Linked DNA regions of Homo sapiens. The protein of the gene in region 1 purifies or fractionates together with the protein of each later gene. This does not show direct contact. Each region holds a gene or a part of one and is shown on either strand. Other genes may lie near its edges. The genes, in order: LCTL, THEM6, DHRS7, STEAP3, NETO2, EIF4ENIF1 and SC5D.

Region 1 (3,500 bases):
AGTTGGAGACCAGCCTGGCCAACATGGTGAAACCCTGTCTCTACTAAAAATTCAAAAAAATTAGCCGGGTGTGGTGGCGTATGCCTGTAATCCCAGCTACTCAGGAAGCTGAGGCAGGAGAATCATTTGAACCCAGGAGGCAGAGGTTGCAGTGAGCCGAGATCGTGCCACTGCACTCCAGCCTGGGCGACAGAGCGAGAATCTGTCTCTAAATAAATAAATAATCGCGTCTCTTCAGCTCACTACTTTTGATGGATAAGAAGGCCCAGAAAATGACTTCCATGTTTAATATTAAAAATATCTTGAGGCGGGGCGCTATGGCGCATGCCTACAATCTCAGCACTTTGGGATGCCGAGGTAAGGGAATCACCTGAAGTCAGGAGTTCAGGACCAGCCTGGCCAACATGGTGAAACCCTGTCTCTATCAAAAATGCAAAAATTAGCTGGGTGTGGTGGTGCACGCCTGTAGTCCCAGCTACTTGGGAGAATGAGGCAGGAGAATGGCTTGAACCCGGGAGGCGGAGGTTGCAGTGAGCCGAGATCACGCCGCTTCACTGCATCCTGGGTGACAGAGCAAGACTCAGTCTCAAAAAAAAAAAATCTTGAGAGCTCTGCCCTTTAAATATTCACAGTTTAAGAAATCATAAGCCAAATGTAGAAAAAATGAGAAAATGTTCTCCCTGATATGAGTTTGGGGATCTGGAATGTCACCCAGTGGTTCCTTGCCTTCCAGCTTAGACAGATTGTCCACCTTCCGCTAAGTGTCCTTTGGGGCCAATCCCGCATGCCTCGTATCCCTGTTCTCCAGTTACCATCATGTATACCCTCATACATGTCCTGTAATGTGACCCAATTCCTTCCCCAGCGACAAGGCTTTCCAGTAGCCCTTCCTTCCTGCAGCATCTTCTCCGAATGGCCCCTTTACTCTCTTGTGTGACTGATGCCTGCTGGCCCTAAGAGCACCTCCGCTGCAGCTCCTTCAAGCAGAGGCCATTTGTTCCATCACACTCCACATACCTCTGAGCTGGGAGTAAGGTGGAGTCTGCCTGCTCATTATCGCTGCTTCCAAACTAGTTTTCCTTCCTCCTTCAAAATTCCCAGGTTCTTTGAAGTCCACACTCTGATGACCACTTCTAACTCCTCTTACTGCTGTCCTTGATCAACCCCAGTTACTTCTACTGATTCATTGAAGATTTTAACCCCTGGCTCGCTGTCACACCCCTTCTTCCTCCTGTCACAGCTTGGACCTGTAGTTGACGCATTTCCACATGGATGTCCCCTTGGCTAGGCTGTAAGCTCTTGGGAGTCGCTATAACAGCTCAGCCATAGTGTCCCCCAGCGCCCTGAATGACAGAACACGCCCTCCATAAATCGTCACAGAAGGGAAGGTGCTATGGAGTATGCTGACTCGGAGGTGGAGCGGCAGAGGACCAAGCTCAGGCTAGAGCCCCTGGGGCAGGCTGAGCTGACCCTGAGGCTGTTCCTCCACCAGAAGGACCCACCTCACCTTAATGATGTGGTGTGCTGCCTTGTACAGGCCGGTGCCGCGGAGCTTCAGGCCCGGCGCATGGTGGCCCGTCTCATAGCCTTTTTCTGCCATTGCCTATAGGGACAGCAAGCAGGACCACAGGATCCATAAGAAGTGGCAGGGAGTGTCACATTCTCCCACCTGGAGGGGCCCTGCTTACCCGAGGATCACTGAACGTGATCCAGTGCTTCACACGGTCCCCAAAGGCCTCAAAGCACAGGTTGGCGTAGTCTCTGAAGTAGTTGGCCATGCTCACATTCTGCCACCCACCGTATTTGACCTGGAGCAGCTGTGAACACAGAGAAGCAGATGCCCCATGAATGAACCGCAAAGCGGTTTAAATGTGGAGATAAGCTGTGTGACAGTCCTCAGACAAACAGGAGGGAGGCCGCACAGGGAGACTGGGACTCTCATGCCTAGAAAGAACTGGATGGATTGAATATTTAAGAAAAATTGCCAGGGGAAAGGGGCCTAATAATGGGGAAGCATCTTAGATCTAAGTTCTGGAGAAATGAGATCTGATGCTAGGATGAACACTCTGATGAGGATTTTGAGGGCCACACAGATGTCAGAAAGCTCCTAGAAGCCTTGGGACAGAGTCTGCCTTCTTCGGCAGAGGGCTTTCCCAACCAAAGACATCTGCCCATGACGGCAGAATTCTCCCAAGACTTGTCACTGTATCGAGACTACCTGTCCAGCTCTCCTTGGTGGGTTTGAGGGGATGTTAATGGGGCAGGCTCATGAAAGCAACCAGGGAAGAAGCTGGAAGGTTCATCTCCCTAAAGCCTGCTCTGCCCTCCTGCCCAGTTAGAGGACTCTGGTAGCTCCCATTCCCACAGAATAAACCCAGTTCCCAGTCATCTTAGCTCAGCACTCGAGGCCTTCGAGGTCTTCCCCAAGCCACTTCTCCAGCCTCTAACCCTTCCCTCTCCTACCTGCTCCCCAAATTCTAACTGAACCGAACTGCTTGCCCAGCTTCCCCCTCTTTGCCATGCGCCCTCCAATCAGAACACCCTTTCCTCCCACCTCCTGCCCAAACCTTCCAGGGCACCGATGGGACCACCTTCTCCCCAGTGAATGAAAATATTGCCTGAGGCCAGGCGCAGTGGCTCACGCCTGTAATCCTAGCACTTTGGGAGGCCGAGGCAGCTGGATCACCTGAAGACAGGAGTTCGAGACCAGCCTGGCCAACATGGCGAAACCCTGTCTTTACTAAAAATACAAAAATTAGCCGGGCGTGGTGGCACATGCCTGTAATCCCAGCTACTCAGGAGGCTGAGACAGGAGAATCACTCGAACCCAGGAGGCGGAGGCTGTAGTGAGCCGAGATCATGCCACTGCACTCCAGCCTGGACGACGAAGCAGGACTCCATCTCAAAAAAAAAAAAAAACAAAAGAAAGAAAATATTGCTTGAATCACAGTGACATAGTGACGTTCTGAAGCATGTTGTGATTTCATGGACATTGCTGGGGCAGGGGTCATATATGAGTGCTTGTGATACTGGCTCAAACAAATTGTAGAAAAAAGGCTAAACTTGTTCATTATGCTATGTCGCCAGATCTTTTTTTTTTTTTTAGACGGAATTTCATTCTCATTGCCCAGGCTGGAGTGCAATGGCATAATCTCGGCTCACTGCAATCTTTGCTTCCCGGGTTCAAGCGATTGTCCTGCCTAGCCTCCCAAGTAGCTGGGATTATAGGCGCCTGCCACCACGTCTGGCTAAGTTTTGTATTTTTCGTAGAGACTGTGTTTCACCAGGTTGGCCAGGCTGGTCTCGAAGTCCTGACTTCAGGTGATCCACCCACCTCGGCCCCCCAAAGTGCTAGGATTACAGGCGTGAGCCACTGTGCCTGGCTGCCAGATCTTAGTTAAAAGACATATCTTTATAGTTTTTAAAATTTGTTTTTATGCCAAGTTTTTTAGAAAACAAAAGGATTCACTCTTTTCACTTACTACACACATCAATTAAAG
Region 2 (4,937 bases), on another chromosome or scaffold:
AAGGCCCCTCATGTCCAAGGCCACAGTGCACAGGGGCAGTGAAGGCCCCAAGAAGGCCAAGAGCTTAAGAGGAGGCAGGGCCGCAGTGTCCCCTGGGCGGCGCTGAGCAGGAATGGAGCGGGAGGCATCACCATGGGGCCTCAAGCCCCAGGATATGCAGCAAAAATGATATACTTAATTTATCTTCCAGTTTCCCTTCCCTCAGAACTAAAAGACTTTTAGTTCTAGGTACCACCCCTAGAATTTCCAGTACACCAGCACCAGCCTGAAAACCACGTCCTCATCAAAAGACAGAAAGAAAAAACTTGAGCCAGCCTGGGAAGAACCCTATTTTATGCTGTTAACCACTGAGACTGCCATCCGCAGAGCCAAGAAAAAAACGACCACACTCCAGTCAAGAAAACATCTTTCTCTCAGAATCATGGATGACTGTACTAGGACCAATCCTACTAAGTTAAAGTTAAAGAAAGCTTAATTTTCCTGTACCTTCATATTGCTTCCTTTCCTTATTGTTACTAGCGCCTTTGTTATTACTGTAACTAACTCACCTCAGACCACCGCCTTGAATGCTTGTTCTGTCATACCTTGCGGAAATGTAAAAGATCAACAACAGCTAGCCTTTTCACACAAATGCTTACGTCCCAGCCCTCTGATGGACATGGTTACCCCTAGCTCTCATTATCGTAATGACCTGCAGCCAAGATGCCAATGTTCTGCTCCTATAGCCTGCCAACTTTGTAGTAAACGGGACTATACACATTCAACTGCTCAGGAGCAAAGTTAAACTTCCAAGAAAAAGGTCTGTGCAGATCTAAAACCCCTCATCTATTTCACTGAAAGGACTACCCTTTCGAACTGTCAGCCTTATCAGTGTAACCCTGTCCTTCTCTATCACCACCTCCACCTTAACTAACTCTAGACCTGCCCTCAGTCGCTTCTGTGGTATGGGGATTGACATAAATGGAAAAGACCCCCTAGGTATTTTTTAAATACGCATTATTCCCCCATCTCCCCCTTCTTCAGTAGCCTCAGTTCTAGATCTCACACCGGTTGCTTCTACATCTAATAATAAAACTAGGGTGTCTATTGTAAAAATAAGAGATCTAAAACAGACCTTAGCCATCGAGAGAGTATCAAGATGCAAATCCCTGGCTGAAATGGATTAAATATTCCGTTCGCACTTTAAATAAAAGCGATTGTTACACATCAGGTTATAAATGAGCCTGTCTCCTTTGTTCGGTGTACTCTCATGGCAAAGCTGCTGGCGAGTGTACCCTTTCTGCAGGAAGTAAAAATGGCCTTGCTGAGGAAATTAAATTTATGTTCACGTGCTATTTCTTTACGGCACCGGGGAACAAGCGTTTCAAACACAGTTAAGGGAACAAATTAATAATGTTTACTAAAGAGACCCAGACTTGGGAGTGTCCAGATATCCCGATGTCTGGAGAACAAAGGCATTCCTGATTTTGAAACCCCGTCTCTACTAAAAATACAAAAAATTAGCCGGGCGTGGTGGCTGGCGCCGTAGTCCCAGCTAGTGGGGAGGCTGAAGCAGGAGAATGGCGTGAACCCGGAAGGCGGAGGTTGCAGTGAGCCGAGATCACGCCACTGCACTCCAGCCTGGGCGACAGAGTGAGAATCCGTCTGAAAAAAAAAAAAAAAAAAAAGAAAATAGTAATATTGATTCTTGCAAAATATAGTAATTAAGAAAATTACTCCTTTATCACAAACCCTTGTAGCAGATCACATCTCCCCATATATACAAGCATTGCACCTAGGGTGGACGCGTTCCTCCTCTTACAGGAACATGCTACTGGGTCTACGGACCAGCTATTCTTTCACCGCTTTACCTTAATAAACTTGCTTTCACTGTGCGCTGCAGACTCGCCCTGAGTTCTTTCTTACACAAGATCCAAGAACCCTCCCTTGAGGTCTGGATCTGAATCCCTTTCCTGTAACATCAGGACTGAGATGAGACGTTGACCCTCGTCTGCTCGGGAGGCACCTGTCCGAGACCGGAGAGGGCAGTGCCCTAAGGGCACACCAGGGGTGCACAGGCCCTGGCTTCCTGCACGGACGCTCCAGGCAACTTTTCTGGCAACTGGTCTGGCCACATCGGCCTGGTGGCCGTCCCCAGGGCCCCAGGTGCCATGCTGCAGGGGCGGTTCTGCCCTGCTGGGAGGAGCGAGCCCTGGGAGGTGCATGGCCCTCCTCTCTCCAACTGCAGAAAGGCCAGAAGGCTTTCAGCTACTCGGCTCAATACCTCAACCCCAAACCCAGGTGACCAGAACCCAGCCCTTCAGCTCTAAGCTGTGTGAAAGGGGGGCTCAGGTCCTCGGGAACTCCTAGGAACCTCTTCTAACTGATCACCTCTCCAACCTATATTCAGGACCAAGGACCAGAGAGGTCAACACTCCAGCCACAGAACAGAGTACCAGGAGAGAGGAGAGGGGTGAACACGAAACCGTGAGGGGCCAGGTTAAGAAATGGCAGGAGGGAAGCACGCTAAGCCCGACTATGAAGAGTTGATTCGGGGACCCTAGGAACCCCCACGAACAAAGGCATCAGTGAGGAATGCCCCCGGTAGAGAGGGAGGGGCGGGAGCGGTAAGAGGCAGGACTCCAGCAGTATCCGAAAGAGGTGCAGGCAGCGGGCCTTCCCTAGGGGAGGGGGCCAGGGACTAGGAGGAGCCCCCGGAGGTCCCACAAAGGCCGTGCTCCGGGGCCAGGGGCGGGGGCCGCTCACCCTGCGCTGGCACAGGTGCTGCACGACGCGCTCGGGTGAGGTGCCCAGCAGGTGCTGCCGGAAGCGCAGCAGCGCGCACACGAAGCCGTCCCGCAGGCTGACAAAGCGCGCCTCCAGGTAGAACGCGCGGTCGTCCCAGCCCAGCAGGCGGGTGCGCACCTCGAAGGGCTCCAGCAGGCGCAGCGAGCGGCGGTGGCGCGCGCACGAGGCCGCCAGCACCGTGTGCGCCCGCAACTCCCTCAGCGCCCCGAGCACCCCGCAGCGGGTCAGGTGCGCGACGCGCGCAAAGTCGGCCTCGCGCAGGTAGCGCGCGTTGTTCATGTGCAGCAGCAGGTCCAAGTCCGAGGGCAGCACGCGGCCCGGGAAGCGCTGCTCAGCTAGCAGGTCACGGACGCGCGGCTGCAGCAGGCGCGCGCGCAGCACGGCGCACGGAAGGCGCACCAGGTACCAGACGTCCAGCAGCGCAAAGACAGCGAGCCCCAGGGCCAGCAACGCCACCAGCAGCCCCAGCATAGCGGCGGCGGCGGGCGCGGGGTCCTGCGGAGTCCGTGGCGCCGGTGCCGGTGTCCGCGGCGCTGGTTACGGTGCCCGCCAGGCCTCCTGGGAACTCACGAGCGCAGCGCGCCCGGAGCGAACCACAGCGCGAGGGCGGCCGAGGGGGAGGGGCCCGGAGCCCCGCCCACCGTGGCGCGACCTTCTCAGCGCCCTACGTGGTCCGTCCCGCCGTCCAGGCCCGCGCCACTTTCGCGTTCCCTGGGGCGGGGCGGGCGGCGCGCTGAGCGCCACAGCGGCACCTGGCGGCCGTGCGCGGCGCTGCAGGCGCGAGGGTGCACGCGCGCCCCGGCGTCTCCGCCTTCCCAGCAGCGCGAGACCCTCGCCAGGCTCTGAAGACGCGGCCTGGCCCTGGCCGTTCGGCCCTTCGTCTGAGCGCAAAGGCTCCAGCACCTCCGCGGCCGAAGCCGCGGGACTTTTCGTGGAAAATGGGACCCAGCCCGATCGCCAGCGGCGCTGCAGCGGACTCTGCGGGAACCTAGCTTCTGCTCCAGGACCTCCAGGGCCACCCCAGCTCGCAGGGCGTTCGCAGCGGCTCAGGGCGAATCACGCTCATGGTCCCCGTGCGCATTTTCAGCCCCAGCCGGTACCTCCTTACTCGCCCTCACGACATTCATTCCACCCCCTAAAGGTCCTGCCAACCCCAGGCTCTTCCCGAGCATTCCCGCCCTTCCTCCCTTTTGAAACCGGAGCAAATCACGGCCGGGCGGAAGCGGGGGAGCCCGGGTGAGAGTCAGTGACTCAGCTGCGGACTCCAAGTGTCGCCGGAGGCCCTGGGGCGCAGGCCCAGCGGGCTGTCGCACAGCTCGGCTGTCCTGTGCCCCTTCCTGACGAGGCTGGGGAGGAAAGGCGGCCCAGAGAAGGCCGGACCAGCTCTCCCCGTCAGCCCCAGGCTCTCGAATGACAGCGGATGCCAGCGACCGGGGATGGGGTCCCGGAATTGCTGGGTTAAACAAGCTCCGGATTCAGGCCTGGGCCTGGGCTGGGGTTCCAGGGTTCTGGACCGCCCTCAAAGAAGGAGCTCCCTGGGGCGGCACCTGGCTCTGCTTGATAGCCCCAGGGACAGGGAGCTCACTACCTATCAGGGCAGCTCCCCCAGTGCCGAGACCAGCTCGGTCCTGGAGACCCTAACCCAGCGGTGCTAGAGGAATTAAAGATACACACAGAAATATAGAGGTGTGGAGTGGGAAATCAGGCGTCTCACAGCCTTCAGAGCTGAGAGCCTCCAACAGAGATTTACCCACGTGTTTATTCACAGCAAGCCAGTGATAAGCACAGTTTCTACAGATTATAGATTAAAAGTACCCCTTAGGGAAACAAAGGGATGGGCCAAAATAAAGGGGTGGGTTTGGCTAGTTATCTGCAGCAGGGGCATGTCCTTAAGTCACAGATGGCTCATGCTATTGTTTGTGGTTTAAGAACGCCTTTAAGCGGTTTTCTGCCCTGGGTGGGCCAGGTGTTCCTTGCCCTTATTCCGGTAAACCCACAACCTCCCAGCGTGGGCATCATGGCCATCATGAACATGTTACAGTGCTGCAGAGATTTTGTTTATGGCCAGATTTTGGGGGCCTATTCCCAACACCCTAGCATTGCTCACACTTGTCCCTGAAGTGTCACCTTGTCGTAGCTGGGCTCTGAGC
Region 3 (4,379 bases), on another chromosome or scaffold:
ATAACCTTTTATGTCTCTTAAGCATTTTGTTGTGTTTGTAACTTTTTACCCCCTAATTCATTTTCACTGTCCTGCAAAGAGTTGGAATAAATTAAATGTCTAACAATTAGTGGATTGCTTAAATTTTTGCAGGTATATATAGTATGATCTTGTTTTATAATTCTTTTTTTATCTGTCAATCCCCATTGATTAATTTCTAAAAGAAGGTGGTAACAAAGTATATCAAAGGCTAACAGTAAAAACCATCCTCAGCAATAATCTTTTGCTGCATAATCATCTATAATTTTTGGTTTACTTCATTACATTTCCTGTACTGTCTATAAATTAAATTCTTTTGAGGGTCACAATTTCTCAGAAATGGTTAATAGTATTCCCTGACTAATTGCTATAAAGAATGAGTGCTGAAAGAATGATAATCAGCATATTTCCTTAGACAGGGGAATAGGCACATCTTAGATGTGCTGAGTACTTCGGGAATGAGGTAAAACTGCATGCATCTGTTTTAACAACACAGTAAGTGCTTTGACAGGAAAGCATAGGGGCTGAGGTGCACTTGGTCCTGGGGAGAAGTGGGAGGGAAGGCCAGGTACCATTCCAAGGAGGTGACATGGGAGTTGAGACTGGTAGGATGGGTAGGAGTTGGTGGGGAGAAACAGTAGGGAAAGAGCATTTTGACACACACACTGGTCAAACAATATGTATAGAAGAAAAACATGGCAATCTTTGATTTGATTTTACCTTGTAAGAAACTTCTCTCTCCAAGACTAGTAATAATTTATAGTAAACCAAAATATATGCATGGGGATAAAATATTTTTTATTTATTTTTCTTTATATCATGAGATTGGTGGAGGGTTAGAAAGGTTTTTTGATTTTGAAATAGAGTCTCGCTCTATCACCCGGGCTGGAGTGCAGTGGCACCATCCTGGCTCACTGCAACCTCCGCCTCCTCGGTTCAAGCAATTCTCATGCCTCAGCCTCCCGAGTAGCTGGGATTACAGGCATGCACCACCATGCCCAGCTACTTTTTGTATTTTTAGTAGAGATGGGGTTTCACTATGTTGGCCAGGTTGGTCTTGAACTCCTGGCCTCAAGTGATCTGCCTTGGCCTCCCAAAGTGCTGGGATTACAGACATGAGCCACTGCACCCAGCCAGAAAGTTTTTTAAACACTGGAAAATTCTGTACCTTCCTGCAAGATTGGTACATACTATTAAGAAACTTAGAAATTGGTCTTACCACACCACTCTTAAAGTTCTCAATCCTTTTCTTCCCCATCTTGTTGGTTATCCACCAGGCCCAGGTTGGCATGTATTGCCACAAATATGTTACTAACAAGAAAGGTTGTTCTGAGATCCAAACTTCTTTCAAATCATTGGCCATGCTGATTAACATCAGCCGCACACAACGACTGGTTGTCATCTTGTGGGACTGGTCTCCATTATTGCCTATAGTCTAAGAAAAGTTAAAAATTAAGTGAATTTATCCAAGCGATTTCACATAACTTTAAGCTAGAAAGGACTCAAATGCCGTCTAGTTGAGTGGTTCCTTTAGTGGAGCTTCATGCCCCTTAGGAGTCTCCATAGGTACTAATGGGAGTTTATAAACTATTTGTAATATTTCAAAAAGCCTAACAGAAACCATATGCTTACTAGATAATATAGTGCAGGCTAACTAAAAGATGAAGATTCTTTGCTTTTAATTAGAATTGCATCACCCTAATGTGCTTAATGACAATTATCACTTTTGTAATAAAAATCAAACTATTAAGACAATGCATTTAGCAAATGAAATTCCATAAACAATTTTCATAATGGCAGGAGTTTTGTGAATAATTCACATAAAAGCACTTCTAAGGCAAAAACTATGATATACAGTGATACAACACCAATATATAATGCCAATATATAACTAGTAAACATTCAAATTATTCCCAACTAGAAATTTTTACCTTTGTGACTTCTCCAGCTAGGGAATTCTCCACAATATTTGATTGCACAGGTCCTGGGCAAATGTTAGAAACTATTATACCTGGGTATGTGGCAAGTTCTGTTCGAAGGCCATTAAAAAAACCCTAACAGACAAAAAAAAAAAAAAAGGAAAAAGGCAAATAAATACAGACACATATCTCATGATTTATCAAAATATGTTCTAAAATGTGTGAGTAAAGGACAGGTAGTGTAATCATGCAAGCTTATTAGGCACTTTTTTTTATTATTATATTTTAAGTTCTAGGGTACATGTGCACAACATGCAGGTTTGTTACATATGTATACATGTGCCACGTTGGTGTGCTGCACCCATTAACTGGTCATTTACATTAGGCATATCTCCTAATGCTATCCGTCCCCACTCCCCCCACCCCATGACAGGCCCCACTGTGTGATGTTCCCCTTCCTGTGTCCAAGTGTTCTCATTGTTCAATTCCCACCTATGAGTGAGAACATGCAGTGTTTGGTTTTTTGTCCTTGCAATAGTTTGCTGAGAATGATGGTTTCTAGGTTCATCCATGCCCCTACAAAGGACATGAACTCATCCTTTTTTATGGATGCATAGTATTCCATGGTGTATATGTGCCACATTTTCTTAATCCAGTCCATCATTGATGGACATTTGAGTTGGTTCCAAGTCTTTGCTATTGTGAATAGTGTATAAGGCACTTTTAACAGTAGACTGGAGGCAATCTAGAACAGACATTCTCAGCTCTTTCCAGGTATAAATGGTTCACCCCCTTTGATAGTGAGGGGTCTTCCCATCAATGATTTTTATGGTAGGCATGCACTGGATAGGTAAAAAGAACTATCCCTATAGATTCTGATATATGCTCTTCATACCAGTCCTCCTCTCCCCACTCCAAAAGGGGTATATGTCCTCCACTGAGAATCACTGAGGTCAGGTTTCTATTTATTCCCCAAAGTAGTCTAAAGTGCAAATTTTTGGGGCAAAGGTGAGGAAGATGGGATTAGTACTTCACAGAAAGTATCAGAAAGAATGAATTCAACTTTTTCCATTTATATTTCTATTTTAACAGTATTAATTCATTTTAGCAAACATTTATCTTTTTGGGTAATAAGAGGGTATGTGGCTAATTAAAAATGTAATATGATTGCCTACTGAATGACTTGTGTAAAACAGACTAGACCTTCTAGACTTAAAAAGATACTGACCATTTCTAAACCAATGGGGAGTAAACAGAAATCTACTGCCTCTCATCTCTTCCTAAATTAGGAAATGTTCCAAGACTACATTGTTATAAGGCTGGGTTATCTATTGAAAAGCCTAAACAGCTAACCCACAGTACATTGTATATGATCCAAAAATGTTAAACAGTTATCAGCTCTGAAATGCTGACCCCAACAAACAGAGGGGCTATGAGGGTTTATGATCAGAGACCAATACAGTGCCAGACTCAGAGATGAACCCAAAAAAAAAAAAAAAGCTTGCTAATTGAATGGAAAACTCCCATAACTTTAACCTTCTGCCTCTCTGTAGCAAAAGAGGAGAGAGGACACCAAGCAAGCCAATATATCAAACACTAAAACCTCTCCTTGTTTGAAATCACATCTAGTATTGTGTGTAAACTTTTCAATGATAAACAAGTTAATTCTGTAGTTTACTGAGAATCTGAGAAGGAAATGTGCTCTTCAAAAAGAGCTTCCTGGTAACTACAGTCTCAACCTGCCACATTTTATCATAGGATCAAATCCAGTAATAAAATAATGAGTCTTGGAGGGCAGGCCAGACAGCTCATCTGTGTTTACTGAAAGCATCCAGCATATCTTATGAGACACGTGGTGCCAAACAGATGGGTGGCCGCCCTCCCTCATCTGCCTGCCTGAGGCTTGCCCAACTGCTCCACAGGAAGTGACTGATGCCTGTTACTAAATATGAGGAAATCATCAGTATAGCATTCCGCTTCATCACTGTCTGCAATTGTCTGCACTTTGCAGCAGAAAAAAGATGTCCTAAAGAACCAAAGCTTCAAATTTTCATGAAACCATGATGACCATGTAGCTATTGCATCTCATGATTCCAACAGTGAAACATTCTACTTAAACTGACTTCAACAGCTTTAAATATAAATTTTGTGTCTTCCTTAATCATTCTTTTCCTATTGGCCTTATAATTTCTTTATATCCAGTCTTAAGCCACCATTAAAAATTCATCCATTTCTAATATTTATACATCGTAAGTTATGCAGTCCAAATCAAGCTTCTCTCCTTGCCTCTGCCTTGACTAGATTTTCTTCTTCCAATGAAACCAGAGAGAATACAGTCAAGATTTTTCCCAGTAAGGATATGAGACCAGGACTAATCATCCTGTGGGAAGTACCTATTTCTGACATGCATATATAATTAGACCAGGCAAAATAAACACCAAC
Region 4 (4,379 bases), on another chromosome or scaffold:
GCCGGGCCCAGCCTCCTGGTTCCCCTGCCCCATCTTTATGTCAGTCCCTGGATCCACTCCCTCACCTGGTCAGGTGTCCAGAGGTTCCAGGAGAGTGTTGTGGAAAAGTAGGAAGAGGCAGACGCCCATGGAGGGTGTTGAAAGCCACCCCAGCTGCTCTGCTGCTTCAGGGCAGGGGATCTTAAGCCCTGTGGAACTGTAGGCTGGTGAAGCTTGTGGACTTCTGCTCAGAATAATGTTCTTACATGCACCAGACAAAATAGCTTAGGGTTACAAATGAAATATATTATATGGAAACACAGCGAAAATATTTTTTAAAAAAGACTACAGTAGCATTAGGCATGCTTCTTTATTAGCACATTAAATGACAAGCTCTAGTGGCAGATCTAATGTCTACCATAATTTTATTTTTACTTTTATTATTATTATTATTATTATTATTATTATTATTATTATTATTTTGAGATAGTCTTGCTCTGTCACCCAAACTGGAGTTCAGTGGTGCGATCACTTCAGTCTTCAACTCCTGGGCTCAAGCGATCCTCCTGCCTCAATGTCCTGAGTAGCTGGGACGACAGGCGTGTGCCACTGTGCCTGGCTAATTTTTTTTTTATTTTTTTAGAGATGGGACCTCCCTGTGTGGCCCAGGCTGGTCTTGAACTCCTGACCTCAAGCGATTCTCCTGCCTTGACCTCCTGAAGTGCTAAGATTACAGGTGTGAGCCACTGCACCTGGCTAGCATGGTTTTAAATTTGTGCTCAATTTAAATGGTATTAGGATAAATTATTTACAGGTAAATTTATGATATGATCTTGGTCAGTATTAATGAAAAATTATGTTGCCTACCTTCATACTTAAAGGAAATAGCAAATTTTAGTTAGAAGTTGGTGACAATTAATATATAATAATTTTTCCATCCAAGTTTACTGTAGACCGATGGCCCGAGTTCAGGGTTTCCTCCACATCCACTCATATCTTGGGCTCAGCAAAGAAGATCACAGGGCACCCACTCTATCTTAGGGGCCCATTCACTTGTCTCTCAGTCCTGCCCTCAGAGATCAAGGTTTGGTGTTCATTCATTCATTCATTCAGCAAACACTGAGCACTGCCTCCGTGCCAGGCTATGATACACAGTGAGGTCCAAGGTCAGATGAGATGAGGTCCTGCCCTCAAGCTGTTCACCATGCTTCAGGGAGAGCATAAGAAGAACTGCTCCAAGATGCAAAATGTAGACAAGCATAGGGACATGCTCACCCTTCCTGGTCATCAAACACCCAGCGATGGTGAGGTTGGGGTTAGATGGTCACTCCTGGCTAGTGACACTGTCCATTGCCTAATCCTTTTGAAAAGAAGTATGGCACTGCATCACATTGGTCATGGAAATTCCAGAGTTCCCTTTCCCAGCACTCTCACTCTGCCAGTTTTTCCCGAGGAAATCATTCAGCAGGAGGGACAAAGGGTGGAGGGCAGAAGTCATCCCTGCTCTTCCTGAGTCTGTGCTCTCCCCAGGGAAGGGGCTGTGTTGTGTTCAGCTTGTTCCCCTGGTGCTGACACGTGGTAGCACTCGGTGAACACCTGCTGGGTGAATGTCTGACTGCCGTGTAGTTACGATGTATAAGAGGAGGGAGGTGGCAGAAGGGGCAGTCCAGGAGCCCTCCACTGACCAGGTTCCTGACTTCTCTTGCAGCCACCAAAATGCCAGAAGAGATGGACAAGCCACTGATCAGCCTCCACCTGGTGGACAGCGATAGTAGCCTTGCCAAGGTCCCCGATGAGGCCCCCAAAGTGGGCATCCTGGGTAGCGGGGACTTTGCCCGCTCCCTGGCCACACGCCTGGTGGGCTCTGGCTTCAAAGTGGTGGTGGGGAGCCGCAACCCCAAACGCACAGCCAGGCTGTTTCCCTCAGCGGCCCAAGTGACTTTCCAAGAGGAGGCAGTGAGCTCCCCGGAGGTCATCTTTGTGGCTGTGTTCCGGGAGCACTACTCTTCACTGTGCAGTCTCAGTGACCAGCTGGCGGGCAAGATCCTGGTGGATGTGAGCAACCCTACAGAGCAAGAGCACCTTCAGCATCGTGAGTCCAATGCTGAGTACCTGGCCTCCCTCTTCCCCACTTGCACAGTGGTCAAGGCCTTCAATGTCATCTCTGCCTGGACCCTGCAGGCTGGCCCAAGGGATGGTAACAGGCAGGTAGGTTCTGGGGGAATAATACCCATCGTAACAATAAATATAAATGGCTAATTTTCATCGAGTGCTGCCAGCATGCTCTTTTTGATATGTTATCATAACTAATCCTGCATCACTGCAAAATTCCATTTTACAGAACAGGAAATTGTGGCTCAAAGACATTAATGATCTTACTGAAAATTCCATAGCTGGTAAGTTGGGATTTGAACCCAGTTCCTATGGATCTGAAACCCATGTTCTTTCTGCTATGGTAACAGGGTTTCCTAGAGGGCAAGGAGGAAAAGGTTGATGGCTTTTTGCTATTTGGAGCCAAGAAGGAGAGAGACTTGGCTTTTAGAATTGGACTCAGAAGGAGGAAAGTAACACACTTATGTACCCGGCCCTGAGGAAGGCAGGCATGTCTCAAATTTTATCGTATTTATTCTAAGGGCTTCCAAGAACTGATTTCTCAGAAAAGTCAACAGCAGGTTTTTCTGGGGCTAGATAATGGCTCCACGGAACAGCTAGAGCTGCATACGTTTCTTGCCACGAGGAGCTCTTACCAAGACAAGGTGGTTTTTAATGCCACCTTGGTTTTTAATGCATTTTCTTGGCGAAAGAATGCCAGACTCCATGTGTGAGAACTTCCACCAGTGAGTCGAGCCCAGGTGCCAGGCTCTGTAGGACAGTTTAAAGGTGCCCAGCCATACCTGACTACAGCACCTTAAATGCAGGCTGCATCATGGGACTCCCAGGTATGGACCAGGAGGAACAGTGGAGAGTGTTGGATGCAGGGCCTGGAGGGAACGGAGCAAGCAAGCTGGCTGGAAAAGACTTGGAGGAGGGCTTTGACCTGGGCCCACCTCATGCTGTCAGGCTCAGGGAGCAGGGAGTGCATTCCAGTCTGAGGGAACAATCTGAAAAGGCACAGAGATAAGAAACAATGCTCCTAGACCTCAGTTTTCTCACCTGAAAAATGAAGACTATAGTACCTACCTGCGGGCTCATGGCAAGGCTGAGAGATCATATATGTAAAGCTCAGCATAGAGTAGGTGTTCAGTCTGTGTTTGGAGACTAAACTGACCAATGCAGTGTCAACAAGGCCCACGGGGTGCTTGGGGATCTGAGGACTGCAATGTGCCTGCAGGGGGACCTCGTGGGTCAGAGCAGCGGGCTTCAAGGCGGAGAGGGCAGGCTGGAGCTGGCTTGTAGAAGGCCTTATGTGCTGGCTGAGGGCTCTACTGAGCCGAGGGACATCATCAAGGGGGGTGATTCTGAACTGAGGGATGGAGCTGCAGCCACAGCTGCCCATTCTGCACCATACGCAAAACTCTTTTGCTGAGCGGCTCCCAGGGCAGGCCACGGCCTTGGAGACAGCCATGTCGGGGGCCCATGGGGACTACCTGGATGAGCATTTTGCTTGTGGTTGCTGATGTCCACGAGCTGGGCAAGATGCTTACTGTTTGCAGCTTCCCTCCTTGAGTAGTTGGCCTGGCTTGGCAGGTGGGCCAGAGGCTGGGAGGCCTGGGCAGCAGAGAAAAGACCCCTAGCCTGGGAGCTAGAACCCCATTGGCTCCCACCTGTACCATTGACTGGCAGCTCACTTGAACAAGTCCCTGCCCCTCTGGCCCTCGGTTTCCTCAGCTGCTCAGTGAGGCCCTGCCCACTCCTGTGGCCTGTGACGCCGTCTGACTGCCCCACTTTTCTCCCGCAGGTGCCCATCTGCGGTGACCAGCCAGAAGCCAAGCGTGCTGTCTCGGAGATGGCGCTCGCCATGGGCTTCATGCCCGTGGACATGGGATCCCTGGCGTCAGCCTGGGAGGTGGAGGCCATGCCCCTGCGCCTCCTCCCGGCCTGGAAGGTGCCCACCCTGCTGGCCCTGGGGCTCTTCGTCTGCTTCTATGCCTACAACTTCGTCCGGGACGTTCTGCAGCCCTATGTGCAGGAAAGCCAGAACAAGTTCTTCAAGCTGCCCGTGTCCGTGGTCAACACCACACTGCCGTGCGTGGCCTACGTGCTGCTGTCACTCGTGTACTTGCCCGGCGTGCTGGCGGCTGCCCTGCAGCTGCGGCGCGGCACCAAGTACCAGCGCTTCCCCGACTGGCTGGACCACTGGCTACAGCACCGCAAGCAGATCGGGCTGCTCAGCTTCTTCTGCGCCGCCCTGCACGCCCTCTACAGCTTCTGCTTGCCGCTGCGCCGCGCCCACCGCTACG
Region 5 (5,102 bases), on another chromosome or scaffold:
GTGCCAAGGAATATTTTTGCTGTTACATTACAAATTTAACCAGTTTCTACAGCTTGAAATATTGCTGAGTCGAACAGATTCTCCTGAAGCAAGTGTGCAGAATAAGAACAAAAAATGGATTTATAATCCTCATGTAATATTTTCATGAGACTATAATGCTTAGTTAACCTTGACAGAAGATTAACTCGAATTCTGTGAGGCCTAGAGTGATCACAGCTAAAAGTGAATTTTTTAGTTTCAACAACATAGGAAAGGTTTAAAAGCCTAGTAAGGTTATTCTTTTGTCTTAATGGCTGAAAGTAAAACAAGAATAATCAGTGGCATCTTAAAGAACTAAAATTACTTTCTACTTAAAATCTCACACACTCATTATGGCTGATTTATTTTAGTAGAAACTGACCATAATATTTCAAACAAGGCTTCTGTGGGTAATATCCACAATTATGTAAATGTTAAATAGCTGCTTCAGATAAGAACCTCTTTGATGTTAAAGCAATTCACTTTATAGGATAAAAGGAAAACTTCTTCATGCCTTGGGGCACACAATGAGTAGTTTGTAATGGGAAAGGCCAGTATCTTTTTAAAGGCAACTTTTTAAAATTAAAATATTGATTTTTAAATAAATTATACATGCGTTTGGTAAAAAAAAAAAACAAAAACAAAATCAAGTGATACAAATGGGTGTGCAGTGAAACCAGTCTTCCCTTCATTCCTGTCTTTTAATCCCCTAGATTTCCGTATTAGAATCAACTACTGTTAACAATTTATTGAATCTTTCCAGACCAGTTATTGGCATTTACAAGTTGATACCACAGACGACTTTAAAAATAACTTGCTTTCTCTCTAGGAAGCCGCCACCAATAGCAGCAACAACAATAATAATTCAGCTTGAGCTTTAAAAATACTCCAGCATGTAAAAATAGTGTAGGCTAACACTGAAAAAAGAAAAGCCAGACACTATATTGTTTTCACCGTAGCTCTGCCATCACCAGAATCCTTTCCTGAAAGGTACAACACTCAACGCTTCACCACGATGGCCAGAGAGGGCAGTGTGCACCCACGGGAAAGGCAAAGGCAGAAACGCTGCAAATCCCTTCACCATTGGAGGAGGCGCTACCAGCCCCTACCCTATCCAGCTCGATTTTATCAAGTTCTGCAGGTAAAGCGGTGTGACAGATCTACGCGATTTCATCCGGGGGTGCTCTCGGATGCACGGTCAGTAGCATGCTGACAACCTTACCGTAGTGAGGGCGCAATCCGACAACGGCAGAAAATTCAGATAAGCAACACGATCAGAAATCCTAGTGTGCATACGGTTTATCACGAAAGAGTAAAAACATTCCTTTCCCAGGAATGACTGTAAAAATTAGGAGTTAGAGATATGAAAGCCACAGGATGAATTTCAGAGTTGTTTTCAATTGTAATAAAGAAATCACTACGGATTTACGGTTTGTGAAATATTCATCAGCTAGAAAGTCCTAGGTTACCTTAGTACAAGCTGTAGATACGTTTACAGTGGGGTAGTTAAACGTTTCGAATTACTGAAATCTCAATTACGAATTTAGGAATATGTGGAGAGTAGACAATGTGTCCAATTAAAATCAAAAGCAAAATTACACTGAACTTTCTAATAAAACAAATTTGAAAAAAGTGCTGTTAGGGAGCAGGAAAAAAGTCACTCTACAAATATTAAGATACAGTGCTGAGTTATACATAACACCGTTAATAATGCCTCAGCCGTACCCTCGAAATTTTTAAAAAAAGAACATGTTACGACATTACAAACACGTCAGCTTTCAATTTAAATCAGCAGGGGGAAAAAGGGAAGTCCTTTACTGAGTGGTGGTGCTGTTTTCCCTCTGGAAATTGAAAAGACGATTTATTCAGTCCGAGTTTCAGGAGCAACTTTGTATCCCAATCCTAATTATCTATGTATATAAATTTTCATCTAAATTACCACCTCCTGGGAAATGCAAAGCCGGTGGAGTAGGTTTTAGAGCTCTGTGCTCTGGACAAGCCAACTGTTTTAATTCCCAGTACAACAAATTAGTAAGAACCGAACACCAGCGGCGGGGAATTCTGAGACCTCTGGCGGAGCGCGAGGAGCGCCGCGTCCCGGGAAGCACCCGAGCAGCAGCGCTCCCCGGGGGCCGGGACAAGCCGGGTCCGCGGCGCCCGCGCGCCGCCCCCGGAGCCCGCAGTGGTGCCGCAGCCTCCGTGGCCGCAGCAGGTGGGACCCGGCTGGCCCAGCAGGCCCCGTTCCCCGCCGCGAGGTGCAGGCGCCGCGGGGCTATTCGAAAACCACTGCACGACGTCACGGCCGCGGCTTTTATTGTTCTCGTGGAATTACTTTTTGCCATCACATCTGGAGAAAGAGCGGCCTCCGCTCCACGACAGGAATCTCACAACTTTGCAAAGGGATGCGCGGAATTCTACGGAAGCGGCGCGAGGGCGCAGCCCGGAGGGCCCTGCTGGGCCCAGGGGCCTCCTGGCCGCCTTCCCGACCCGATCCCTCTTCCCACACGCGCCCCGCGAACGTCGGCCGGACTCGCAGGGGTCGGAAGCGGCGCGCCCGGAGAGCCGGCGGAGCCGGGCAGGGCTCGCGCCCCGCGGTCCGCTCCGAGTAGCCGCGAGCCCCGCCAGACAAAGAGGCGCGTCGGGTCCCGGGCGCGGGTAAGGGACGCAGAGGCGCGGGCAGGGCGGCGCGCCAGCCTCGGCCCGCAGGGGGCGCCGTCCGTGGCCCCAGCCCCGGTCCTTACCTTTGAGGACCGAGCAGAGCCGCTCCAGGGCCATGTTCCCGAGCTGCCCGGCGCTTCGCGAAGGGCTGAGGTAGCGGCGGCGGTGGCTCGGCGCTCACGGCTCGGCGCGGCGGCGACGGCCCCACTCCGTCCCCATCGCCGGCCAGCAGCTGCCTCCCCGCTCCCCTGAGGAGAGCTCAGGTCCTGCGGCCCGCCATGCCCGAGCCCCACAGTGGGCTCCCGCGCGGCCCGAGCACCCCGACGGGCGCCGCCTCCTGCTCCGCGGCGCCCCGTCCCATCGACCGCCCGAGGGCCGAGGAGTGCGGACGCGCGGCGCGGGACCGGCAGGCAGCTCCGCCCGCGGCCCCGGCGCGGGATCCACTGAAGTGGCGGGCGCGGGGCGCCCAGGCTCATTTAAGGAGGGAGCGCGAGCGCCGCGTGCCGGCTGCGCCGCCTGTGCGCATGTGCCCGCCCCGCCCCGCCCCGCGCCGCGCCTCGCGCGCCCGCCGCGGCCTCGCGCCGTGGGACGGCGTCGCTCCCCGCCGGCTGCCGTTAGGGCTGGGAGCCGGCTGGGCGCGGGGGTAGTGAGGGTGCCTCTCGCCGTGGCTGCGCGGCGGCCTCGTCCGAGAGGCCGGCGCCGGGGCAGTGACCGGCCCGTGCCCAGCCGCCGCGCAGGGCGCCCGGGGCAGCTGGCCGAGCCCTCGATGCCTCCCGTCTGACGGAGGCGCCCGGGAAGCGCCGCCCACCTCGGCCCCGCACCCTCGCCGGCCTGCCGGGTCTCCGCCAGCCCTAGCAGACAGAGAGGGGCGCCGGTCCCTAGTCCCCCAGACCTCCATTCAAGGTCAAAACTTTGCCCAGCTCAGCCTTGCTCGACCCTGGGCAGGGAAGCGCGGACATCGGCAGAGGGAGCCCGAGGCTCTCCGTGCCCTTCGCGCCGGTGAGTTCCCGACCCGCGGCGCTGCCGGCGTTTCCCTAGCGCCCGCCAGGTTGACAGGCACTTTAGTACCAACTCCTCAGACTCCCCCTCATGAAGTAGGTTTTAGGGGATTGGAAAGTCGAGGCCAGAGAGGTGAAGCCCTTCGTCCAGAGCCGCGTAGCGAATGAGCGGCAGGGCTGTGCACCTCCCCCGGGGCTGCCCTCCTAGCAGCTAACCACTACGCTGGGCAGCTTCGCCAGCTGATGGGAGTCTCCAGGTCTGCCAACAACTGCCTGGCTGTTGGTGGTATTCATGATCCTGCTTTATTTTCTCCACAGCGGTTATCACACTGATATGACCTTCCTCATTTATTTATTTGTTCATCCTTTATATCTCCCTCACCCTCACACCATTAAAATATCAGCTGCTTGCAGGCAGGCCGACTGCATTCATTTTTTTCACTCCACACATACGTATTGGGTGTTAATTATGTGCAGAAGACAATGATTGGTGCTGGAGATAACAACCGTGATCAAGGCCTTACCATAATAGAATATTTATGCCTGTCTCTGCGTGTAGTAGGAACTCTGTAAACGTTTGTCTAACCAATTGTAGCTAAAGACAATGTCAGGCAACTGAAACATTTTTCAGGTGTTAAGCTCTTCTCTCTCACTTTGTATTCCTTCAAGAAAGGTACAAAAGCATAAATAATTCATGAGATTTACAAAGGAAAAACATACTTAACACCAATTAATATCGAGGTGTTTCACCCTTTGCCATGTGCTGTGAATGGGGGCATAAAAGATGGGTAAGTTTGGGTTCCTAAAGGTAACCACCTACTACAGTTAAGATCGCACACGAGAACCAATTAGGAAATAAAACATTTAAGAACTTTTTCCCACGGATATGAAAAGGTGGCTCACGCATGTAATCCCAGAACTTTGGGAGGCTGAGGCAGGCGGGTCACCCGAGGTCAGAGGTTTAAGACCAGCCTGGCCGACATGGTGAAACCCCATCTCTACTAAAAATACAAAAATTAGCTGGGCGTGGTGGCACGCGCCTGTAGTCCCAGCTACTAGGGAGGCTGAGGCAGGAGAATCGCTTGAACTGCACTCCAGCTTGGGCAACAGCGAGACTCCGTCTCAAATAATAATAATGATGTAGCATATTAGTAGAATAGGAGAGTAAGAAGACAATATTAAGTATAGGTTACAGACAACAGTGAACCAAAAAAATTTGAGAGGAAGGGGCTCTCAAATTAACATAATAGTTTCTTAATGTGAAGTTGTTGACTGAAGGAAAAATCTGCGTGTCATGTCATCAGAGAAGACTTCCTGAAGGAGGTGACACACAAACCATGGAAATGCTTGGGGTGGCGAGAGGAGAGGAGGCAGAAGAAGAGCTCAGCAGGCAGGGAGCAGGATGAGCCTGGAACGTGGGGCAAGTGT
Region 6 (3,867 bases), on another chromosome or scaffold:
GAAACTCTTGATTCTGTATTTGATTTGAACGAGTGTCACACACAGCATCAGTTCTGTGCCAGGCACTGTGCTAATTATTGCCGCTCCCTGCCCAGTGAAGCACAGGCAGCCCAAGAATGAAGGCCCTCCCTAGCGCACCTCACTGGTGTAGTCTGCAGTAAACTATACACCAGCTCTGGATAACCCTACAACTCCCAAGTTCCTGTACCTATTCTGTCTACCTGAACTGTTGTTCTCTAGCTTCTTCTTGATCGCACCCAATGGAATGCAGCTTCTTCCCCAGGAAGCATCCCTGCAGTGCCTTGTTATTTCTTCTAACCCCTCCATTTTCCCATTGTACTTTGTTGGTGCCTAATATCTACATGCCTTGGTTTGCTCTAGGTGATTGTCTCCCCCGCTAGACTGAGAGCTCTTACAAGACTGGGACTGTGTTTCATTTTCCTTTTGTCTTCCCTCAGAGCTTAGCATGTGCTTTTGTGTATGTTAGGCCTAAATGCTTGGGAAATTGAATTGGATAAGGGAAAGGGGATGTTAAAACTTCTAGGCTGGTCTTGAGTATTATATGGTTTTAAGACTTGAAGTTAAGCAGATTGGGGTTCATGCTGATAATTGGTTTGTTCACAGGCAACAGCGAGTGACCAAGTCACCAGCACCCGTGCATCGAGGGAATTCCTCTTCCCCTGCCCCTGCTGCCTCCATCACAAGCATGGTCAGTGACCTTTAGTAACTGTGAAGGACTTTAAGGCTTCTCCCTGTTTGGTTGTGCATGGATTGTACCACTGTGTGCCCTAAATGTCCTTGAGTTCCTTCCACGGAAATAACTGACCTAGTAGTTTTTCATAACTGTCTATTAGGTCTTTCCCTTTTAGGACACAGTCTAAGTCTTAGGATTTTAATGAAGCCCCTATATTGGGGAAAATATGTTCCAGCAGAGATGATCATGGGCCAGGGCACACGAGGTGATATAGTATGTTCAAAGAAATGAACCAGGTGTGGGGAGACAGGAGGACGATAGTGAGAGACAGGAGGTGAAGTGGACAGAGGTGACTGGGTCAGACAGTGGGGAGTCTATTGAAACTTGCAGGGGAGTTCACAAATTCGGATTCACCACTTCAGGTCTCAGTGATATAAACTAAGGCTGGAACAGAAGGGTTTGCTTATATGCAGTGAGAAGTCTAGTTTTATAACTATCATTACTTTAAAAAATGTTTCATTCCAGCTGGGCGTGGTGGCTCACGCCTGTAATCCCAGGACTTTCAGAGGCCGAGGTAGGTAGATTGTTTGAGTTCAGGAGTTCAAGACCAGACTGGGCAACCTAGTGAGACCCTGTCTCTACCCCTAATACAAAAAATTAGTCGGGCATGGTGGTGCACATCTGTGGTCCCAGCTATACTCGGGAGGCCGAGGTGGGAGGATCACTTGAGTCCAGGAGGCAGAGGTTGCAGTGAGCCAAGATCGTGCCACTGCCCTCCCTAGTGAGTCCCCGTCTCAAAAAAAAAAAAAAAAAAGGTTCATTCCCCACAAATCTTTATCATCTAATCAAAGCCGATAGAGAAGAAGGAAAAAAAAAAATAACTTTGCTGCGTGCTTCAGAACCCCACGTGGGTCTTTGCACCGGTGACCTTGAAGGCAGCAGGGTTTGGAAAGAACTTTTTTGTTTATAAGTCAAGCCCTGTCTCCTGCCATCAAAGATGTGGGGTTGTTTGGTGAGAAAAGGCAAATGCATAATAAAATCACCAAGGTAGAAATAGTGAAGAGGTAAGAAATGACTCCAAATGATTAATCCTGATGGCTGAGGAGACTATTGAGATAAATTTGACTTTTCTGGTAGCCAAGTTAAGGGAAATATTAGGAGTATGGAGTAATTCTGGTTTTGATGTTATCTTTGAAATGTCAAGGAAGGTCTGTTGCTCCAAGTTATATTTCTGGCCATGTTCTTTCTCTTGCCAGCCTAATCCCAGGCTGGGAAATCTGTGACGCAGAGGCTGCATAGGCATGTCCCCATTATCACACAGTTGTAAGCAAGGGATAATGTACTTGGGACACTGCCTATTTGCCCCATTCTGTTTTTCCTCCAGCAGCTACAGAACAGAATACTACAGTTGGCCTATGCTACCAATGTGGGGACTCTTTGTTGAGTATCTTGACAAGTTAATCCTGGCTTAGTATTAGAGAACGGCACTTAGAGAATGTGCTAATGCCAATTGTTTTTCTCTGCAGCTTTCTCCTTCCTTTACCCCTACCTCAGTGATTCGTAAGATGTACGAGAGCAAAGAGAAAAGCAAGGAGGAGCCAGCATCTGGAAAAGCAGCTCTTGGTGACAGTAAAGAGGATACTCAGAAGGCCAGTGAAGGTACTGCAGAGCTGTTAAGGGCACTGCTCAAGAAAGTATGTGATGGAGAAAACATGGGCCTGAGCGCTGACCAGCCTGATATTCTATACAAAGCCCTGGGCAAGACCACTAGCTTCTCTGGACTATGGTTCTGTGTCAGTGAGAAGGTTCTGTGTGACAGTGAGAAGAATTGGGCCAGCTCACAATTGCTTGGTTGCTTGAAATTTGACCAATCTAAGAGTGCTACTACCAGACGGGTAGAATGAGTGTTAGTTTAGAATCCTTAGTTAGGCTTCAAAGTTAATAATTAGTATACTTATTTGGCAAATTAATATAATTCAGCGAGTTTTACTTCTGAAAGATTATGTCCAGCCTGTGGAGACTTAAGTGTCCAACATAGAAAATATGTGAGAGGCTTTTAGGAGTTGCACAGTAGGGATTGTGAAGGACGTGGTAACATGCGGATTCCAAATTAGGGTTTACAGAGGTGTTAAAAGTACAGATCTGAGAGATTTTTGCCTGTGTTTGAGAAGGCTTGGGGTGGGTGGTGGGGAGGAAATCCTGTTGGTACTATTAAGACAGTTTGGGTTCTTTGACCAGACTCTAATTGCCATTTAGATTTTCTGTTGTGATAGATTTGCATAATCTAGGCCACAGCCATTTGTGCAGAGAAGGGTGCCCAACAATTCATCTTCTGGTCCTGTTTATGAAGCAAACGATGGTTCCTACCGTGTAGTCCTCTAAACTTGTTAAGGGTATCAGATAAGAATTGTGACCTTAAGAAATGAGATTTATTAGACCAGTGGGAGGCCACAAGTGTTTGGGAGAGGTTTGCCAAAATATTTTTTGTTTGGTTCCTCACAGAAAACCTCCTGTCATCCAGCTCTGTACCCAGTGCCGATCGAGACTCTTCTCCCACTACAAATTCCAAACTGTCAGCATTACAGAGGTCTTCGTGTTCCACCCCACTGTCCCAGGCCAACCGTTACACCAAAGAACAAGATTATCGACCTAAAGCAACTGGGAGAAAAACACCCACCTTGGCATCCCCAGTTCCTACAACACCTTTTCTCCGCCCTGTCCACCAAGTTCCCCTTGTCCCCCATGTCCCTATGGTTAGGCCTGCTCACCAGCTTCACCCAGGGTTGGTACAGAGGATGCTGGCCCAGGGAGTACATCCACAGCATCTTCCAAGTTTGCTCCAAACTGGTGAGTTTCCAGCCTGACTTGGGTGTCGTCAGTTTGTGGGCCTAGGGGACAATTGTTGGCACTGATGAAGTGCTATAATGTGGGAGATTTCCATCCCTAGAAAGATGTTACTAGATTCTCCCATCTAACTGGCAGGCAGTGGGCCCAATCCAGTCAATCCCCTAGTCCTTTAAAAGATTAGGAACCTAGCTTGAAGATTCTTTTTTTTTTTTTTTTTTTTTTTCCTTTTTGTAGAGACAGAAGTCTCACTCTGTCTGCCTGGCTGGAGTGCAGTGGCGCAATCTCAGCTCACTGCAACCTCTGCCTCCTGAGTTCAAGCAATTCTC
Region 7 (4,379 bases), on another chromosome or scaffold:
TGATGAGGTTGGAAAGATCCGAAAGGGGTGGAGTATGGAATAAATGCTAAATTTAAAGTATTTAGTGGAAAGTATATTTTAAGCAGGGAGATAATGTGTAAAGATGGGTTTTAGGAAGATTAATATGAAGGAAGTGATGATTCCCAGAGATTTAAATAATAAAGATGTCTTAGGAGTATCCTGTCTCACAAATATCTTTATAGTTTAATTAAGAAGTACTTTAGGTAGAACATTTCAAGTACTTATGCGAGGGAAATGAGGAAATGACCAGATTCCAAGAAGCCAAGAGAGATTAGTTTATAATATACTGAATTAGCCAGAACAGATCATTTATAATGTTTGAGTCTAGGATCCCATTTTGCACTCAGATGGACATGTGAAAAGTGAACTCTAATCCCAGGAGCTGAGTTTTGATTCTTCTGTTTCCCGTTTTCTTTTCTAGGATTGTTTGAACTTGTCGTTAGTATAATATCTTTCCTCTTTTTCACTGACATGTTCATCTACTGGATTCACAGAGGCCTTCATCATAGACTGGTATATAAGGTAAAGTCATTTGTGGTGAAAAGAGAAAAAAGGTTACACATTTCAGCAATGTATGATTATAAATTCTGTTCTCTATTTCCAAGAATTTCCTCTACCCATATTAAATGTCTAAGTAGCCATAATCATAACAGGTACAGGGTGCATTTTGTTCATATTCTTCTTTATGGGTCTAAGGGGCTGTCTTAAAATTCGTCTGTTCCGGTAACAGGTACACATGGACTTACAGAGGGAACAATAGACATTAGAGACTCCAGAAGGTGGGAGGATGGGAGAGGAGTGAGGGATGAGACGCTCCCTATTGGGTACAATGTGCACTCTTCAGGTGCTAGGTACACTAAAAGCCAGACTTCACCACTGTGCAGTATATCCATGGAACACCACTGCACTTGTACTCATAAATCCATATAAAATTATACTGTTTTAGGGCGAAGAAGGACATTTTATAGAATAAATAATTTTGCTGATCTCTACAGGATTTGTTAGGTTGTTTCCAACATGAGTGTGAGAAGCTAAGTTGAATGTTGCACGGGGTAAAGTTTGCAGTGCTAATTGTGTCCTTTTCTCCTGCAGCGCCTACATAAACCTCACCATATTTGGAAGATTCCTACTCCATTTGCAAGTCATGCTTTTCACCCTATTGATGGCTTTCTTCAGAGTCTACCTTACCATATATACCCTTTTATCTTTCCATTACACAAGGTGGTTTATTTAAGTCTGTACATCTTGGTTAATATCTGGACAATTTCCATTCATGACGGTGATTTTCGTGTCCCCCAAATCTTACAGCCATTTATTAATGGCTCAGCTCATCATACAGACCACCATATGTTCTTTGACTATAATTATGGACAATATTTCACTTTGTGGGATAGGATTGGCGGCTCATTCAAAAATCCTTCATCCTTTGAGGGGAAGGGACCGCTCAGTTATGTGAAGGAGATGACAGAGGGAAAGCGCAGCAGCCATTCAGGAAATGGCTGTAAGAATGAAAAATTATTCAATGGAGAGTTTACAAAGACTGAATAGATTATTGCCCAGTTATTCTTAAGTAAGGACAAAGAAGGAAATATCATCGTATTTCTTTTTTTTAATAAGGAAAAAATAATATCCATACAGTCAAGATACATAGTAAATGGTATCATTTGGAAATCAGCATCGTGGGCACTGCTGAGGAATGATCCTAGTGGTAGGTCAGAAGAAGATGCTGTGAACACCAGGACTTTAATCTTATGCTTAAAATGCCAGATGTTGTTCGGGGGACAACTTGTATCTTTCTAGCAGCAGATCTGTAGTTTGTATAGCCTCAACAACAATTTTAAATAAGATGGAGAATAAATTATTGAGGGGACTAGGCTATATGCATTTGCCTTCATCCACCCATGTTTATTAAGAATCATTGTGCTTAATAATACCAAGACTAAGCACCATAACCAAGAAATACTAATGTAAAGATTGTTTCTTGTTTCAGGAATGGTTAATTCTTCAACGTTGGTATGATAATGATAACTTGTTTTGACTTGAATAAAGTACTACATCAGTGTGGAAAAAAATTCTGATACATTAGCAGCTATGTAAATGACCTAATTGATAGCAGGTGTAATAAGACTATCGTCTTCCTACACATAGGAGGCTCATTCTCTGGACACACTATCACCTATTACATTTTACTGATTAACAAATAAATTGGAATTTAAAAATATCGATATCACCATGATTTAATCCAGATCTGGGATTATGTAGCTAAACATTGTGATGATTATTATTTAAAACCATTATTTAATAAGAGTAAAAATATGTGAATCTGGATATATTTAAAAAAAGAAATTTGATGCCCAGATAATATATTAGGCACTACTGATTTTTTAGTTAAATTGATGCACTACACTTTTGATGTTTGAAGTTACAAACCTGTAATTTTTTTGTAAAGGAAATAATTGCCAAATACCTAGGCCCATTGCTGACGATTAGTTCTAAAATCTTATTCCTCCTCTTCTCCCCTCACTTTTCCCTACTTCCTCTGCAAAAAGATTTAACAAATACATTCATAAGGAAATGTGTGTTGTAACAAATATATTGCAAAAACATAGTTTGTAAAGGCATTCTATAAGCTATTTATGTAAAATCAATAAAAGTTGATCATAATTAAACTGTATCAGTTGAGTATTATAGCAGCACAAAGTATTCTTTGTACAGATTTTGTGCCAATTTGAAGCCACAGAAATGATGTGGATTGTTAATTGTGTTTTAGAACATCCCCGGACACTCAGTGTCACAGGGGGAAAGAAGTGGGTACCACATTCTGTTTATATTTCACATTTTAACTAGATTTGAGTGTTTTTAGCAAGAAATCAGTCTTAAAATCTAATGTCTGGGATCCAGAAGAAAATGTCTTTAATCTGTGAGTTATTGTCACAATGTCATCTTATTTAAATGTACCAATTAGCATTTTGTAATAGGCAAATGTCATTTAGTGCTTTTCACCAATCCCACTCACCCCCGGTGCTCCGCCTTGCCTAAGAAAAAGAAATTAAGGAGAAGTAAACTTTATTTCCTAATATAATGTCAGCTGATATTTATTGAGCTTTTCCTCTTTGCCCAGAGACTAGGACCCAAAGAAGTTAAGTAACTATTCCCAGGTTTATTTCTCTCTCATATGATGTCCCATGTGGATGTTTGTGGTCAGTGGACAGCTTTCCACCTAGTCTTTCTGCGACCCAGGCTCCTTCCTCTTGGGGCTCTGCCTTTCTCTCAGTCCATAGAGCCCTCTTTGTTGAAAGAGCACATAGGAAAAGAAGGAAAAGTCTGTGTGGAAAATGTTTCTGGGTCAGGCCTGGAAGTGGTGCATATCTCTTCCGCCCATGTTCCTTTGGACAGAACTCCGTCACATGGCCCACCTAGAGAGATTTTGGGAAATGTGTCCAGCTGTGTGCCTGGGAGGAAGGGGGCACCATTTTCTTGAGCAGCTAGACAGTTTGCCGTATTTGTGGTGTTCTCCTCTTGTTGATGTTGAAATGGTGAATGAGCCATAAAGTATTTCAGGTTATCCACACACTAATCATCTCAGTGTCTTTAATTCTTAACTCCAATATGAATGTTTAAAGCTTCCTCTAGATTCTTATTCCTATATAACTAATAGAGAAGAAAGGACAGCTTCCTATGGGGAAGACAGAGGCTTCCTCATAGATGTTAGGAATAATCAAACTTGCCCCTGCCCTTTCACCCGTCTCAAATTCTGGTCTTTTAAAGCAGCGTTATGTTAAGTAGTCCTAACATTGTAATATACAGTACTGCCACATTCTCCTACTTTCTATTAGAGGAAGTCAGAGAATATTTATGGAAGTGAGGACCCAAATTACCTTCTACAGATGACTTTTATAGTTACAGGACAGAAAGTGAAAATCAAGGTTACGTTTTCTACTTTTGTGGTAGAAATTGAGAAGTGGGTGGATATGGTTCGAGAAGACCTTTCAGAAACACAGAGACTGAGTCTTTGTCTTCCATGCTGTCTCTGCAGTACTGAGTGAATTTCCTTATACCCTTGTATCATGTTTTCCTCCCATCTTCTAGAAGCTGGGGACAGATTTGGAAGAGAATTACACAAGTTCAGTTTTTTGATACATGGATTTTACAGTGCATGCAGGTTATTTATGTAGAGAGGAGGTCTGGGAGAAAGATGGAAACTAGGGAGATGACTGAGAACAAAGATATTTGGGATTAACACAGATAGAAGAAAAGTTTGAAACCATGAGATTGTCACAGCATGAAAAAAGATATTCAAAGACACTAACCAACTTGAGGGGTGCAGTGGTCTGAATGTGTCCTCCAAAATTCAAATG

Evidence for each region.
Region 2: the proteins of LCTL (region 1) and THEM6 purify together in Homo sapiens (affinity purification with mass spectrometry; one large-scale study listed by BioGRID and IntAct). This does not show direct contact.
Region 3: the proteins of LCTL (region 1) and DHRS7 purify together in Homo sapiens (affinity purification with mass spectrometry; one large-scale study listed by BioGRID and IntAct). This does not show direct contact.
Region 4: the proteins of LCTL (region 1) and STEAP3 purify together in Homo sapiens (affinity purification with mass spectrometry; one large-scale study listed by BioGRID and IntAct). This does not show direct contact.
Region 5: the proteins of LCTL (region 1) and NETO2 purify together in Homo sapiens (affinity purification with mass spectrometry; one large-scale study listed by BioGRID and IntAct). This does not show direct contact.
Region 6: the proteins of LCTL (region 1) and EIF4ENIF1 fractionate together in Homo sapiens (co-fractionation; one large-scale study listed by IntAct). This does not show direct contact.
Region 7: the proteins of LCTL (region 1) and SC5D purify together in Homo sapiens (affinity purification with mass spectrometry; one large-scale study listed by BioGRID and IntAct). This does not show direct contact.

Annotation. Positions count from the first base shown.
Region 1 is NC_000015.10:66,559,499-66,562,998, forward strand, and holds part of LCTL (lactase-like protein isoform 1 precursor), read right to left. Parts: intron 1,818-3,500; coding exon 1,689-1,817; intron 1,604-1,688; coding exon 1,508-1,603; intron 1-1,507. UniProt on the Homo sapiens protein: Plays a role in formation of the lens suture in the eye, which is important for normal optical properties of the lens.
Region 2 is NC_000008.11:142,725,668-142,730,604, reverse strand, and holds the start of THEM6 (protein THEM6), read right to left. Parts: upstream 3,383-4,937; 5' UTR 3,259-3,382; coding exon 2,746-3,258; intron 1,645-2,745; exon of another isoform or gene 1,115-1,644; intron 1-1,114.
Region 3 is NC_000014.9:60,148,116-60,152,494, forward strand, and holds part of DHRS7 (dehydrogenase/reductase SDR family member 7 isoform 1 precursor), read right to left. Parts: intron 2,073-4,379; coding exon 1,950-2,072; intron 1,454-1,949; coding exon 1,238-1,453; intron 107-1,237; exon of another isoform or gene 1-106. UniProt on the Homo sapiens protein: NADPH-dependent oxidoreductase which catalyzes the reduction of a variety of compounds bearing carbonyl groups including steroids, retinoids and xenobiotics.
Region 4 is NC_000002.12:119,243,802-119,248,180, forward strand, and holds part of STEAP3 (metalloreductase STEAP3), read left to right. Parts: intron 1-620; exon of another isoform or gene 621-1,687; coding exon 1,688-2,187; exon of another isoform or gene 2,188-3,080; intron 3,081-3,877; coding exon 3,878-4,379.
Region 5 is NC_000016.10:47,140,820-47,145,921, forward strand, and holds the start of NETO2 (neuropilin and tolloid-like protein 2 isoform 1 precursor), read right to left. Parts: upstream 3,127-5,102; 5' UTR 2,794-3,126; coding exon 2,760-2,793; intron 1-2,759. UniProt on the Homo sapiens protein: Accessory subunit of neuronal kainate-sensitive glutamate receptors, GRIK2 and GRIK3.
Region 6 is NC_000022.11:31,441,448-31,445,314, reverse strand, and holds part of EIF4ENIF1 (eukaryotic translation initiation factor 4E transporter), read left to right. Parts: intron 1-624; coding exon 625-709; intron 710-2,220; coding exon 2,221-2,353; intron 2,354-3,196; coding exon 3,197-3,541; intron 3,542-3,867. UniProt on the Homo sapiens protein: EIF4E-binding protein that regulates translation and stability of mRNAs in processing bodies (P-bodies). Plays a key role in P-bodies to coordinate the storage of translationally inactive mRNAs in the cytoplasm and prevent their degradation.
Region 7 is NC_000011.10:121,305,944-121,310,322, forward strand, and holds part of SC5D (lathosterol oxidase), read left to right. Parts: intron 1-442; coding exon 443-543; intron 544-1,113; coding exon 1,114-1,569; 3' UTR 1,570-4,379. UniProt on the Homo sapiens protein: Catalyzes the penultimate step of the biosynthesis of cholesterol, the dehydrogenation of lathosterol into 7-dehydrocholesterol (7-DHC).